Regions from separate parts of the Homo sapiens genome. Here region 2 is linked to region 1. A link means that fine-mapping ties the variant in region 1 to the expression of a gene that starts in the linked region. Tissue or cell type: T cells. Region 1 holds a variant in brackets; the other region holds the start of a gene. All regions are shown on one strand. Distances are between the middles of the regions.

The links. PIP is the estimated chance that this variant, and not a neighbour inherited with it, causes the effect.
Region 2: it holds the start of ST3GAL5, and the variant in region 1 is fine-mapped to the expression of ST3GAL5 in T cells (TOPMed, PIP 0.92).

Annotation. Positions count from the first base shown.
Region 1 is chr2:85,850,553-85,858,552 of GRCh38, forward strand. All of the region lies in intron 3 of ST3GAL5 (ST3 beta-galactoside alpha-2,3-sialyltransferase 5), which reads right to left. Among named protein-coding and RNA genes, the nearest start is that of ST3GAL5, 34 kb to the right of the region's middle. RefSeq lists enhancers at 2,895-3,034, 3,045-3,144, 3,515-3,644. The variant T/A (reference allele first, on the strand shown) is at 3,339.
Region 2 is chr2:85,884,649-85,892,821 of GRCh38, forward strand. It overlaps ST3GAL5 (ST3 beta-galactoside alpha-2,3-sialyltransferase 5), which reads right to left and starts at 4,342. Exons shown (of 7, transcript NM_003896.4): 1 at 4,176-4,342. The coding sequence starts at 4,257. ST3GAL5-AS1 (ST3GAL5 antisense RNA 1) reads left to right here and starts at 4,632. Exons shown (of 3, transcript NR_110569.1): 1 at 4,632-5,155; 2 at 6,528-6,557; 3 at 7,043-7,604. RefSeq lists enhancers at 2,924-3,043, 3,054-3,183, 3,522-4,022, 3,714-3,793 and silencers at 3,964-4,083, 4,124-4,743.

The DNA.
Region 1 (8,000 bases):
AAGCGGGACACACAGAGCGGCCACACACACTGCACATTCATCTCAAAACCCTAGGCCCGAAGGTCATGAATGGCAATTTTTAGAGACCTAAAGGCCTAACCCTCCACTAGAGAATCATATCCTAAGTATCTGGTTTTACAAATCTCCTAGGACAGAAAGGAACATCTGAGAAGTGGCAAGAGGGACCCGGAGAAGCTCACTGATGGCCACGGGACTAGAAAGAGGTGCGTGAGCGAGCTGGATGCTCGCCAGGCTGCCAGGTCTCCTCTTCAGAAGCTGCATCTGGAAAGGAGTGAAATTTCATTCCATTTCCATTCTCACCAAGAGGTTAATTTCAGGTTTCAAACTTAATTTTCTTCTTTTTTTTTCTTTTTTTTTTTTTGAGACAGAGTCTCGCTCTGTCACCCAGGCTGGAGTGCAGTGGCGCAATTTCAGCTCACTGCAACCTCTGCCTCCCAGTTTCAAGCCATTCTCCTGCCTCAGGTTCCTGAGTAGCTGGGATTACAGGCGTGCACTGACACACCCGGCTACTTTTTGTATTTTCAGTACAGACGGGGTTTCACCATGTTGGTCAGGCTGGTCTCAAACTCCTGACCTAGTGATCCACCTGCCTCCACCTTCCAAAGTTCTGGGATTATAGATGTGAGCCACCACGCCCAGCCCAAACTTAATTTTCTAGACTGTGGGTAGGGCACATTTCTCAGTAGTCACCTTCTGACTGTGACCCCTCCTGCGCCTAAGTGACAGTGGATGCAGTAGTAAATCCTGAGTGAGTTTCTACATGTCCTGGCAACGTCTAAAGCCACAGCAATTCCTTGTCCTCTTTTGTTTCAACTCGTTTAACAGATCTCCACTGATTGCCTGGAGACAGGGCTTTTTCTGTAGAGAGCTCACACAGAACTCCATCTCATAGCCACTCAGAACAGGAGGACCACATGGGCCATGTCCTCCACTCTGGGATGGTTTCTGTTCTTGCTTCAATGGTGCACAACCAGACATCATTGTCTTGGGGGCTTCCTCAGAGCTTGTCCCACATCTTTAAGTAAGTTGAACCGGCATCTGCTTCAGCTGCTCTCTTCCCCCTCCACTGCTTGCCCATAGCTCACAGCTCAGAAGAAAGTGCCTCAAGGCGAGTGCCGCACCTTCAGGAGCTGCAATGAAGAGAGGAAGCAGTGTGACTAGGCTGTGAGGACTCCAGAGCTCCCAGGAAGGCCTCAGAGGCGTCAGCTGGGGCCTGGGTGGCATTCATCCAGATGAGGCTCACTGGAAGCCAGGAGCTGGTGACTCTCTCGTAAAATACAAGAACTCCCGTTCGTCTTATATCCAGGGACAAAAATAAAGGTTTCAGTTTTTAACATCTTCCAGGCTGCGCTTGCAGGTTGCCCACAATTAAGACAAAGTAGACATCTGGTAGTGCCAATTGTTAATGCTGTGGCAGTGTGCCATAAAAACATCATGTGAAATTCACAGAAAGGTATTAAAAACAATCAAAGTAATTTTCCTCAGCAAAATCCCCACTTTCATTTCCACTCTGAAATCTTAAGGACAACCCTTCTCAGAAATACAAGTAAGTGGCATAATTCTTAGTAAAAGGCAATGTTCTATTGCACTTATTATTTTTTAAAAATCCGGAACAGGGCAGAGCATTCAGATTGAAAGAAAACTTGTGTCTGGCATTAATGAGATGTGGGAAGGAGCTCAATTCTGCCATGGATCACGTGATCTGGGGGCATCAGTGACCTTGTGGAACTTTCATTTCCCACACCTGTAAACTCTGGTGCTGGTCGCTTCTTCGCAGGTTGCTCTGATGCCCTAAGCATTTTGCCCAGTACCTGGCATGTGTGGAGACTTGTATGATATCACACAAGGACAATAACTGAGGGTCACGTTATTGACATATTTTACTCACATTTAAGTTATAACTCTTACCCAGTTAGAAGCAGAAAAAAATTTAAATAACCAAGTCATGGAAATAACACTACACTATAAACTCAACCAGTTGGTGGAAGCCTGGGGTGGGGTTGAGGGTGGGGACTGACTGCAGAGGGGCTCCGGGGAACTCGCTTGGGCCATGGGAATGTGCTAAAGCGGGATTGTGGTGACAGAGGCGTGGCTGCATAAGTTTTTAATACTCATCAAACAATGGGCTTCAAAGGATTAAATCTTATGTAGATTTCATCCCATCAACTGTTAGAAAAAAAAATAATCAGGAGATCTGGAGGCTGGACTCAGTTCTAGATTGATTTAACTAGCAGCGTCGTCTTTGTTAAAGCATTTCTCCCTAGGTCGAGGCTTCAGTTTTCTTACCTCTAAGATATCCCAGGAAGGCCTGGAAAGCGGGGAGCAGCACTAAGGAGAGAAAAGACTCGGTTTGAAGATGCTGGTGCCTGGGCTCACTGAATGCTTCAGCAGGGAGGGCCCTGCTTCCTTTAAAGGCACGGTGTAGGTCTGCAGAGTCCGAGAGAAGACGATGAAGAAGCGGCTGAGTCCATCTGGCCATAATTAACTGCACGCAATGCCATCCGCAGGGAGATAAGGTCTTTAGCTCTCAGAAAGGAGAGAGGGCCAAGTTCAAAATGCTGCTACTACACAGCCCAAACCGAAACTGACATCAACGTGCCCTCGTCTCTCTTAAAACATCTTTTGAGTGCAATTTCACATCTGAACCACACTTTCAAAGTGTCCAGGCATCCCTTCAGAGCCCACTGGTAGTCTTTTTAACAACTGGCACATTAAGGGACATATTTAAATAGAAAATACAAAACCCACAACTGCCACAGCCACACTTCCTCTGCTGCAGTAATGAAGGCGGGGACCAGCGTCACCAGACAATGCTCAAGTCTAGCAGGGCTGGCAGGGTCCCACTCACACTGTGGGCTGCTGAGTGGAACCAACAGAGCTAACAGGGCCCCACCCTTATGGCTCTGAGACCTTCTTCTGCCCATATACATCCACGATAATTCAAATTTGTCCACGTGCTCTTGTGGTAAGGATCAAATCTCCACTGACTGCCTGGAGACGGGATTTTCTTCATGGAGAGCTCACACAGAACTCCATGTCATAGCCACTCAGAACACGAGGACCACACGGGCCATGTCCTCCACTCTATTCTTGCTTCAGTGATGCACAAATTAAGGAGCTGCTTCGTGCTTAGTGTAGCATTCAAGGCCTTTTGCTATCTGGCCCTGTCTCATTTTCAGTCCCATATCCTGTGATCCCTCCTCCCCAAATCCTCAGTGATAGGCAACTCTTGCCATTCCTCTCATGTGCAAAGCATTCTGAGGCCTGCACTTCTGCACAAACCACCTCTTCTGCGTGGAAGGAAGCAGGATATCCTG[T/A]CAGGACCGTTTTGAAAAGTGGAGCATTTTAACAAGGTCAAAATGTTAAAAACCTACTTAAAAAAATTCTCTAGTAACACAATAAGACACCCTCAATTCCACCATAATTATAGCAGGCTTTCACTTTCTATTTTACTAGTTTCAAACTCACGGAGTTTTACAAACATGTTTGACTTACACAGCTGCCCCCCATTCCTTCCTCTTTCTCTATGAAAAATTACAGGGGACTTTCTCCTTTACTTATTTCCGTATTACTTGAATTTTTGGTGTTTTTTTTAAATAATTGAAAAAAGTAACCTTTTAGAAATCGCTCAGCACTGGGGTGACATGGTAGATGGACACTGTGGGCTGCTGCTCAGTTTTGCTTAAGTGGCTTTGGCTCCTTCTCCAGGCAGGTAGGTGTAGGACCAGGGAGGCCAACTCCCCCATCAGAAGTCCTCCCAACCCCCCTCGTCAGTGATTGGTCAGGAGTCCTCACTGAAGCCCATCAAGGAAGGGCATTGGCATCTATGAAGGCTACTATTGGTCCAGCCATGAGCTTAGGTCTAAAAATTGGCCCAGTAGCCTAATGAAAGGACTTACATTCCATGGTTCAGGGAGAAGGGGCAGGGAGCGGGTGCTGGGCTTTTCCCTGTCTACCAGTGGATGTTTAGGTTGAAGAGAACTATCAGTCCTGTTCCTCACATTAAACCTAAGGTGCATTACTGATGTACTCAAAGAATTACAAGTTATAACCGGATTTTCTGTACAATCTAGAGTTCACAGGTAATGGAAGATTACACTGTGATTCAAGTACTATCTCCCCTTCCCCCTGAAGTTGAATATATGTAAGTGCATATTAAGTAATGTAAGATGTTAAGCACACAGCCCCTGTCTCCCAAGACCTGGCCTGGAAAACAAGTGGGGAAGATGAACAGCTGAAATCCTACAATGATAAACATCAGGATTAAGGCATGAGGGGGCTCTCTCACACACACAGAGGGACGATCAGGGATAGCCTCTTAGAAGGGGTAACCGCTGAGCTGAGACTTGACTTAAAATACGAGTAACAGAAGGGCGAAGGGCAGGGAAAGGCTCTAGGCAGCAAAGAAAGAAAGAATGCAGCAAATAGAGGAAAGTTCTTTTCAACAAATGGTCCTGGGACAACTGGAGAACAACATGCAAAAGGATGACCTTGGACCCTGACCTCACACTGATATGGTTTGACTCTTTGTCCCCACCCAAATCTCATCTGGTAGCTCCCATAATTCCCATGTGTTGTGGGAAGGACCCAGTGGTAGATGACTGAATCATGGGGGCAGGTCTTTCCTGTGCCGTTCTTGTGGTAGTGAATGGGTCTCATGAGATCTGATGGTTTTAAAAATGGGAGTTTCCCTGCACAGTTTCTCTCTTTTGCCTGCTGCCATTCATGTAAGACGTGACTTGCTCCTCCTTGCCTTCTGCCATGATTGTGAGGCTTCCCCTGCCATGTGGAGTTGTAACTACAATTAAACCTCTTCTGTAAATTGCCCAGTCTTAGGTATGTCTTTATCAGTAGTGAAAATGGACTAATATACCATATACAAAAATTAATGCAAAACGAATCAAAGACCTAAATGTAAGAGGTAGTATGTTATAAACATACTAGAAGAAAACTTGGGACTAAACAATAGTTTCTTAGATATGACACCAAAAGCATAAATGACCAAAGGAAAAATAGGTAAATTGGGTTTCATCAGAATTAAAGACTTTTGTGCTAAAAATGATACCCTAAAGAAAGTGAAAAGACAACTTAGAGAGTGGAGAAAATACTTGGAAATCACATACCAGATATAGGGTACTGGTATCCAGAACACAGAAAGAACTCTTACAATTTAAGAATAAAAAGTCAAATAGCCCAATTAAAAATGGGCAAAGGATCTGAATGGGCATTCCTCCAAAGAAAACACACATACGGTCAATGAGAGCACATGGGAAAGATGCTCAGCATCATTAGCTATCAGCAAATCAAAACCACAATGAGATATCACTTAACATCTATCAGGATGACAGTAGTAAAAAAGGAAAGATAATAACAAATGTTGATAAAGATGCGGAGAAACTGAAACTCTGGTACCTTGCTTACAAGAATGTAAAATAATGCAACCATTTTGGAAAACAGCTTGGCAGTTCCTCAAAAAGCAAAACATAGTTACCATATGACCCAGCAACTATATTCCTAGTATATACATAAAAGAACTGAAAACAGGTACACAAATACTTACATACACATGTTCACAGCAGCATTATTCATAATAGCCAAAAGTGGACACAACCCAAATGTCCACTAACTGATGAATGGATAAACAAAATGAGGTATATCCATACAATGAGGTATTATCCAGAAATAATAATGAAGTACCGATACATGCTACAACATGGGTGTACCTTCAAAACATTATCCTAAGTGAAAGAATCCAGTCACAGGAGACCATGAAATGAATAACATGAAATGTCCATAATAGGCAAATCTATACAGACAGAAAGTAGATTACTGGTTGCCTAGGATTTGTGGGGAGGGGGAAATAGGGAGTGACTATGAATGGATATGGAGTTTCTTTTTGGGATACTAAAAACCTTCTAAACTTAGATCATGGTGATGGTTGCACAGTTCTGTAAATCACTAAAACCATAGTGTATTGCACAAAATCACTGCACTGTATCCCTTTTTTTTTTCTCAGTGTCTTGTTCTGTTCTGTTTTATGGGCTGGAGTGCAGTGGCATGATTATAGCTCACTGTAATCTCAAACTCCTGGGCGCAAGTGATCCTTCTGCCTTAGTCTCTGGAGTAGCTAAGACTACAGTTGTGAGACACCACACAAGGCTAATGTTTTTATTTTTAATAGAGATGATGTCTTGGTATGTTGCCCAGGCTGGTCTCAAACTCCTGGCCTCAAATGATCCTTCCTGCCTCGGCCTCCCAAAAAGCTGGGATTATAGACAGGAGCCACCATGCCTGGCTGTACTGTATGCTTTAAATGGGTGAACTATGTGGTGTGTTAATTATATCTCAATAAAAATGTTTTAAGGGCAGGGCATGGTGGCTCATGTCTATAATCCCAGCACTTTGGGAGGCTGAGGCAGGAGGATCACTTGAGTCACTTGAGTCCAGGAGTTTGCGACTAGCCTGGGAAACACGGTAAGACCCTGCCTCTACCAAAAAAAAAAAAAAAAAAAAAAAAAAAAAAATAGGCACGTATGGTGGTGCATGCTATAGTCCCAGCTACTCAGGAGGCTGAGGTGGGAGGATTGCTTGAGCCTGGGAAGTTGAGGCTGCAGTGAGCAATGATCGGGCCACTGCACTTCAGCCTGGGTGACAGCGTGAGGCCCTGCTGAAAAGAAAAGAAGCTGGGCTCAGTGGCTCATGCCTGTCATCCTAGCACTTTGGGAGGTTGAGGCGGGTGGATCACCCGAGGTCAGGGGTTTAAGACCAGCCTGGCCAACATGACAAAACCCCATCTCCATTAAAAATACAAAAATTAGCTGGGTGTGGTGGCACATGCCTGTAATCCCAGCTACTCGGGAGGCTGAGACAGGAGAATCACTTGAACCCAGGAGGTGGAGGTTGCAGTGAGCTGAGATCATGCCACTGCACACCAGCCTGGGAGACAGAGTGAGACTCCGTCTCAAAAAAAAAAAAAAAAAAGAGAAAAGGAAAGAAGAGAAGAGGTTTACCCAAGGACCTGTGAGGGGTTGAGTGTGCCTAAAATACATAGAGTTGGGACAATGGAGGTGGCACAAAAAGACTGGAGAGATCAGTAGGAACCAAGTCATGAACGGTCTTCTGGGCCAGACTAAGGAGTCTGGGTATTTTCCTGAAGGTAAAGGAGAGGCACCAAAGAGTTTTAAGGAGGGAAGCAATATATTAGATTCAAATTGTAGAACACGACTACTCCGGCCACAGTGGGGCATGGCTGGATGCAGGAAGGCAGGTGAGAAGACACACAACCAGGGAAACAGGAAGAGCAGGTGACTCTAAAGGGCAGCCCTCGCTCACTACACCTTTCCTTAGAATGCCACGTACTATGTATTTTTACAGACATAGTCCCTACTCTCAAGTAACTTATACTTTAGATGGCAGGATGAGAGGCTCGTATGAATTAGGATAATACCGATGGAATGTGGCAAGCTTCAGAGGAGCTTGGAAGTAGCAGTGAGGTTCAGTCTGAAAGTCACTGAGTTGGGGACTGGTTAGGCTGCATGCAGGTGTTCTTTGAGAGCCTACCGTTTGAGACAACTCCACCCAGAATTCAGAACTTTGAAAGCCCCAGGTTACGAAACCAGCCTCCATCTTCCAGTCAGGCACTGGCAAATTGCTGAGAACCACAGAATCTCAGACCTGGAAGGGATCAGAAAGGCCCCTGAGCCCCTCCCTGTCTAATGTCTGAATTCTACCTACAGGACCCCTGGCTTTTTTTTGAGACAGAGTTTCACTCTTGTCGCCCAGGCTGGAGTGCAATGGCACAGTCTTGGCTCACTGCAACCTCCCTGTCTTGGGTTCAAGTGATTCTCCTGCCTCAGCCTCCTGAGTAGCTGGGATTACAGGTGCCTGCCACCACGCCCAGCTAATTTCTGTATTTTTAGTAGAGACGGGGTTTCACCATGTTGGCCAGGCTGGTCTCGAACTCCTGACCTCATGATCCG
Region 2 (8,173 bases), 34 kb after region 1:
TTCTGCTAGAGTATAGATTAGAGATGAGAATAAGATGTTTATGAAAAGCAAAAAGGGGGTGAAGAACAGGGCAGAAGAGGATAAAAACACAGAGGCTGAGGAGGAGAGAGGAAGGCTGAGGAAGAAACGACACGTGTAACAGAAAAACTGCCCCTGCTCAGAACTCAATACACATAAGCTCTGAATTATGAAAAAGAGATGGTCTTAAAAACAGCCTTAACAGTCAAAAGACAGAAGTACTATTCCACCAAAGCAGACCTTTCTAATCTGTTATTTTTATCAAACTGATCCTATCCTATCACATGATACTTAACTGTTATAATCCCAGATGTTAAAAATTGAAGGAAAAAAGGAAAGAATTCATGGGTACAGGACTTGGTGAACCATCCAATAACTTAATCCTGAACATTTTTCCATGCTGTAATAACGGGACAACAAAAATGTCTTACATGGCCTCAAAAACCCAAATAAGAAATGGGCTTTTCCTCTAGGTCACGGATAATTTTTAGCAGAAATGCAGAGAAAGCAGGCCACAGAAGTAGACATAAAGTATAGGAAGTGCAGTATTATGAGAGCTCAGAGAGGAGTGGTTTGTTTGCAGCAACAAGGGTGGGAGTTGAGACCAAGCCAGGCAGTTTCACCAGAGAAACACTTCCCTTAGGTCAGAGGCTCTTGGGGAGCTAAGGGTTCCTCACAGCTCACCTTGCCCTGCTGCCTGACCCACTGGGAGACTGGGGCCTATAGGTGACCACACTTGCTGGCACCATACACAGCCAGGTAGAAACTGATCCTGACTGCCAGAAGGACTCCTGATTCCTTCCCCAGTCTCCTTAGAACTGTGGCCCTCATCAGCGAACAGTGAGGAACTACCAGTGTGATCATTTCAAAACTGGAATAAGGTCGGGCGCGGTGGCTCACGCCTGTAATCCCAGCACTTTGGGAGGCCGAGGTGGGCGGATCACGAGGTCAGGAAATCGAGACCATCCTGGCTAACACAGTGAAACCCTGTCTCTACTAAAAATACAAAAAATTAGCCGGGCGAGGTGGCAGGCGCCTGTAGTCCCAGCTACTCGGGAAGCTGAGGCAGAATGGCGTGAACCCCGGAGGCGGAGCCTGCAGTGAACTGAGATCGTGCCACTGCACTCCAGCCTGGGCGACGGCGAGACTCTGTCTCAAAAAAAAAAAAAAGAAAAAAAAAACTGGAGTAAAATAGCTGTGCCTGTGGCTCCTAAAACAGCAATACCATGCCTAGGTATGGACCTATCAGAAATGCAGACACATATGTACCAAAGCCAGACACTAGAGTGGTCACAGCGGCACTTTCTGTAACAGACAAATGCTGCAAACTGCCCAAATGTCCACTAACAATGCGTGACTATGTGGTATATTCACCCAATGGCCCCTATCACCAATGAGAGTGAACATGCTTCAACCATGGGCAGCATCATGAGTGATTCTCAGAAACTCAATGCTTAAGGAAAGAAGGCATACACTAGCCAGCCAGGCGCAATTGCTCACGCCTGTAATCTCAGCGCTTTGGGAGGGCAATGTGGGAGAATAGTTTGAGGCTAGGAGTTGCCAGAGACCAGCCTGGACAACACAGTGGGAGCCGTCTCTACAAAATAAAATAAAACAAATTAGCTGGGTCTGGTGGTGTGTGCCCGTAGTCTCAGCTACTGAGGAGGCTAAGGCAGGAGGATTGCTTGACTCCAGGAGTTCAAGGCTGATCCTGGGGGAGGCCGCGACTGGAGTACAACACAAGGGGAGCTCCCAGGGTCCCGGCCAGTTCTGTTTGTTGATCTAAGTGCTGAGTGCATGGGCATGTTCAGTCTGGAAAATTCATTGAGCAGGACACTTATGGTATGTCTACTTTCCTAGTATCTATGCTATACTTAAAAAAAAAAGAGGAAAAAAAAGTTTTGTCTGTCTGGTGTCCAGGTAAGACAAGCCTGGTAGTGTCCTTGAAGCCTCAAAGCTGATTTTTCTCCTGCTCCCTTACGCATTTCACTTGCTTCTCCTCTGCACGTGTGCTTAAGCTGGCTGTCTCCCGGGCGAGCCTGCGTGTCACCGTCATATTTATGGTTTCCTCCCACACCAGGCCTGTGATTCACCCCACTTTGGATGCCTTTGCTAACTTATGCCACCCACACTGATCCAGCCCTTGCTTTTCCTTCCTCAGCAGTTAGGCAGCTTGGAGCATCATTAACATGTGTATATTCCCAGTTGTTTTACTTCTGCCAGAGCTTCCCAGCAGACTAAAACCACGGAGCATGCCCTTCGGGAGTGATCTCAGTCCTCCATCGTGTCCACAGGCAGTGCGGATTAAATCGCTCCTCAGGAGCCAGGAGGGTGTGGAAGGTGAGCTTTATCCCTTCTCCCAGAAACTGCTGGCTCCAAGACACCCACCTCAGCCCTCCAGGACCTGGAATGGACTCCCACAGAGGACTCACCAACCTCTTTTCATTCATTGCCTCCCGAGGCCAACCTGCTAGATAAATTCCCCTCATTGCTGCAAATAGTCCCACAAGGCAAGCAGGGAAGAACTAGAGGAGCAAACCAAAGAACAAAGAGTGTGTTCTTATTCTGCCACGGATATATCCTTAACGTTCATCACCAATCTATTTTGATAACATGCAACAATTTACAATTTATGCCAAAATTATAAGAACTGTCCAAATAGTCGTAAATGTGAGCTCTCAAAATTTCTGCCTGTCAGCCCTCTCTCTTCCATGAGCCCCTTCATGCCTTCCTATCTCACCTGTTTCTTTTCTCGCCTAGACGAAGAAATGCTGATCATAACCCAGAATATCCAAGGGTCATTTCATCTTACAAAAACAGCAGCATCCATATAACAGGCACATGGGTAAAAGACTCAAGACATGCTGGTTATATGCTCTCGCAGTTCGTATGAATCTCTCCTTCTCCAAGTGACAGCTGGAATTCAGGTGCTTCTAGGCTCTGTTACTAGCAATGTTAGACACTCCTCGAAGCTGTCAAGCTCTCAGGATTACACAAGTGAAACCACAACCTGTCCTGACTGTATTCAAGTCTGTGCCCCTTCATGCAGCAGAAATGGATTCCTCTTCCACAGTTTCAGCAGCTGTATCCTTCCGTGGAAAAGGATTAGCAGCCATAAGCCCGGGGGAGGGCAGCTAAACACCAGAGGGCAGGAGATGAGTCTCCTTCCTCTCTGTGACACCCAGCACGGCCCTGCCACGAGGAGCAGGCAACCACTGGTGCCAGATGAAGCGCAGCACATAAAACCATTTTCCCCTTCAAATGAACGATGCCTAATTAAGCAAAAGCCGCATGCATGACTTAAGACATGAGGATATAAAATTCGTCTTCCGAGTCAGCTAGAGATTCTGCAGGATCCTCTACCCTCGTAAACGTATTTTTTTATGATTAGAAAAACCCGGGGCCTGGAAGGGACCTCGGCCATCGGCAGGGTAAGCTTCTCAGGAGAGACCATGAGCCCGAGCCCCACAGGGGGATCAGTGTCTGCCAAGGTCACCAAGCGGGTGTGAGGCAAGGGCAGGGCTCCTCGGGGATGCTCTCGGAAAACCCTGCGTTACTTACACACGCAAGGCGTACAATGAATGCACACCCGCGTCAAGCCACGGCTTACAATTCAGAAGAAATCAAAAGGTCGCCAAAACCTGTCTTCTCCGCAAGGCTGGCTGCAGAGAGGGTGCAGGGAAGGTCACCGGCAAATTTCTACCAGCGGCCCCACATCACGCCTCCCCGATGGATGCAGAGAGAGGTTTCAGGAGCTGCTAGTAACCTTGCAGGGGGTTCCCTAAGCCCATCCCAGGAAAACGAGTTAACTCGGCTCTGCTAACTCCGAAGCTTCCAGCAATGAATTAAATCCCGAGCTGCAGCGGAAAGCGGCGGGGAAAGGGCCACTGCGGCGGGACCCGACACCCGGCGGTCCGCCCCACCCTCTACCGCGTACACACCTGCGTGGGACCCCCCGCCCGGTCCACACGGCCCGGGACCACGACCCTCCGCCCGCGCCCCAGCCGGGCTCGCCTGAGGGTGTCGTGCCCTGGGCGCTGCCCGCGGGGTTCGAGGCGGAAACGCCGCGCCCAGCCGGCCCGGGAAGAGACAAGTCGCCGCCGCAGCCCCCAGCCCGCGGGCCCCCGCGACGCCGAGGAGGGGGCTGCGCCACGTACCTCGGCCGGCAGGTGCCGCCGCTGCCTCGGTCCGCGGCTGCAGGGGACGCCGCTCCGCGCAGCCCGCCGCCTTCGTCCGCATACTAATGAGGGGGCGCCGGCCGGCCGCCAGCCCGGTACCCCGCGCCCCCACCCGCCCCCAGCGCCGCTCTCGCGCCCATTCAGCTGGGGGCCGCCGCTCCCCCGCTCAGATGCGGAGGAGGGGCGCGTGGGCGGGGTCTGACGTCACGAGGACGCGGACGGCCAATCGGAGAGCACGATGCCTCCGCGGCGGCCCCCGCCCCCGGGCGCGCGGCCAGTCAGCCCTGCGGTGCGGTGGGCATTGCCAGAGCAGGGCGCCCCCTGCAGGGACGCACCCGGGGCGGGGGCCAGGCTGGGGCGAGCCCCCCTTGGTTCTGGAGAGGAAATGACATACAGTTTGTGAAAGCATAAATATTCGTGAAAATAAGAAAATTCAGGAAGGAAACAAAGCTTAAGGCAGTGATTGATAGGTTATTTCTTGGACACAGCTGAACGTATACTGTGCGCCTGCAACTTTCCGGTGGTTTCGGACCGGACTTCAGTGAAGCCAGTGAAGTCGGTCGACTTGCAGAACTTCCTTTCAGAGGGGCGTACACAGCACCGCGGCCGTGTGCCTGTGATCTCCTTCTGAGTTTGAAAAAGAAGATCCTAGACACCGAGCCAAATATGTTTGCATAAACCGGGAGACTTGTGGCTCTATTTTGTAACAGCTTGGCGCAGGGCAGCTGGTTTGGAGATGTCTCTGTTCTTCCCTTGGTGGGGGTGCCGGAAAAAATGTGCTGCCTGGGCGATCGAGGTTGGGGCAAAAGCGTTGCAAAGGAAAAGGTGGGAGGACTCTACTTTCACATTTCCCAAAAGAGTTTTACCATAAGACTATTTCTGGATTGTTCTAACGTGAGGATATTGGGAGCATTTTGAAAATACTGGAGGAAAAGCTGTCACTGGGCGATTTAAATCCGGTAAGTTGGCCAAGGCAGAGCAGCTGCTGGGGTCAGCGACAGCTGACCCTTGCAGCTGAGTATCTTGCCCTCTTAATCTTGGAGATCAGCCCAAGGCCCATGTGTTACAGGAAAGGGGTCCCGATCTAGACCCCAAGAGAGGGTTCTTCGATCTCACGCAAGAAACAATTCAGAGTAAGTCCACAGTGCAAAGTAAAAGCAAGTTTATTAAGAAAGTAAAGTGGTGGCTGGGCACAGTGGCTCACGCGTAATCCCAGCACTTTGGGAGGCTGAGACGGACAGATCACCTGATGTCAGGAGTTCAAGACCAGCTGGCCAACATGGCAAAACCCCGTCTCTACTAGAAATACAAATATTGGCCGGGCGTGGTGGCGCAAGCCTGTTGTCTCAGCTACTCACGGGGCTGAGGCAGGAGAATCGCTTGAACCCGGGAGGCAGAGGCTACAGTGAGCCGAGATCGCCACTGCACTCCAGCAGGGCATTCCTGAAAATAAGAGGAGGGACATATCCAACTAAGGTACAATGCTTGTAATGCTTGTATATATGGGCAGATGTCTTCTGCTACAAGGGTTTGTGATAAAGGATTAATTTTCCCTAATTACTATATTTTGCAATAATCAATATTATTATTTTTAAAGCAAAATTAGGAATGCCTTTGTTCTCCAGATATCGGGATATCTGGACTCTCTCAAGTCTGGGTCTGTTTAGTAAGCATTATTAATTTGTTCTCTTAACCATAAACACCTAGAGGCTAGGAATGCCTAGCTTTCAGGAAATGCAGCCTAGCAAGTCCCAGCCTCATTTTTCTAGCCCTCACTCAAAATGGAGGCGCTCTGGTTTGAACACTTCTGACACATGTGCTTGATGCAACACTCTTTACCTCTCTTTGTCTCCCCTGTCCTTCCCCTTCTCTTCCAGATTCCCCTTGTCGGCAAAGCCAGGCGCTGATAGCGTTATGGCTGCCATGAGAGTCAGCAGTATCCCAGCTTCCAAGGATGGGTGTAAGGTGGGGGTGAGGAAGAAAAGGAACTTGAAGCTGCCTCCTGTCCCAGAATCACAAGACATCTGTTAAGCCCTTACTACCTCATTCACTCCACTCACATTAGGTTGACCCACTTGGGCAGCAAGACAAGCAGGCCTGCAAACTTCCTTTTCTTCATCAGCCACAGAGACATCCTCAGCTATTATTCTGGATTAAGGCAGAGATCTCCAAACAGCAGACTAAGATCAGCCTCTAGATCTCAAAGCCTTACTGTTATCTCTCCAAGTCAGTGGCTGATCTCAGAGAAGCTTCTGAATAGTGACTAGCAAAGAGTCACTCAGGCTACTTACAAATCCAGGACAGCAGCGTTTTTTTTTTTTTCTTTTTTAGAGACAGATTCACTCTGTCATCCAAGCTGGAGTGCAGTGGCACGATCTTGGCTCACTGCAACCTCCACCTCCTGGGCTCAAGCAATCCTCCTACCTCAGCCTCCCAAGTAGCTGGAACTACAGGTACCCAACACCATGCCAGGCTAATTTCTAATTTTTTGTAGAGACAGCAGTCTCCCTCTGTTGCCCAGGCTGGCCTCAAACTCCTAGGCTCAAGTGTTCCTCCTGCCTGGGCCTCCCAAAGTGCTGGGATCACAGATGTGAGCCACTGCATGCAGCCAAAACCAGTTATTTTTTGGCTGGGCATGGTGGCTCGCACCTGTGATCCCAGCACTTTGGGAAGCCGAGGTGGGCAGATTACTTGAGGTCAGGAGTTTGAGACCAGCCTGGACAACATGGTGAAACCCTGTCTCTGCTAAAAGTACAAAAAATTAGCTGGGCATGGTGGCATGTGCCTGTAATCCCAGCTACTCAGGAGGCTGAGGCAGGAAAATTGCTTGAACCCAGGAGGCAGAGGTTGCAGTGAGCCGAGATCACGCTAGTGCACTCTAGCCTGGGTGACAGAGCGAAACTCTGTCTAAAAAAAAGAAGTTATTTTTTATCAATATATATTAACATGCAATGGATTTATTATTATTATTATTTTATTTATTTATTTTTTACTTGAGACAGAGTCTTGCTCTGCCACCCAGGCTGGAGTGCAATGGTACAATCATGGCTCACTGCAACCTCCACCTCCCAGGTTCAGGTGATTCTCCTGCCTTAGCCTCCAGAAGTAGCTGGGATTACAGGCACGTACCACCATGCCCAGCTAATATTTGTATTTTTAGTACAGATGGGGTTTCACCATGTTGGCCAGGCTGGTCAAGAACTCCGGACCTCAGGTGATCCACCCTCCTCAGCCTCCCAAAGTGCTGGGATTATAGGTGTGAACCACAATGCCCAGCCAGATTTATTATTTTAATGACTTAATAAATATTTTAAAATTTAAATATTTAAATTAAATTAAATATTTAAAAATTTCTCAGTTTTAATTTTTAATTTGGCAAATATCAAGAGAAAGACCATGTCAAAAAGATTCTTTGGGATCCTCAGTAATTTCTAGGTGTGTAAATTGATCCTGAGACCAGAGTTTGAGACTTACTGGTCTCAGCCACCCAGATAGCCCCATTGCCCCATCCTCCTTGCCACTAGGAATGGTTCATGGGTAGCCACAGGAACCACACTGATCCAATCAGAGGAAGTCTCAGGAATTTATTGGATGCTGGGGGAGAGATGCTTTCATGTTCTGCTAGACAAGAACTAGGCAGTAAGTAGCCTCAGAAGCTGTTGGTAAGACAGACATCTTGGACTACAAGAAGAGCTTATTTTAGGAAGAAAGTAATGCTGTGGGAAGCAGAAGACCACGGTTAGAAAGAAACCATTTCCTTTATGACATTTTTGAGTCACTAAATCAAACCAGTCCTGAAGTCCATCTTGCCTCCGTACATTTCACCTGTATGAGATAGTAAGTTCCTCTGTGGTTTCAACTAGCCAACCCCAGATGCCCCAACTGATTCGCTATGTACCTACTTATGCAACACAAGTTGCAATGATGAAATGAGGCTGGAAGGCAGAGAAGGGTCCAGGAGGAAAGTACCTAGCTCA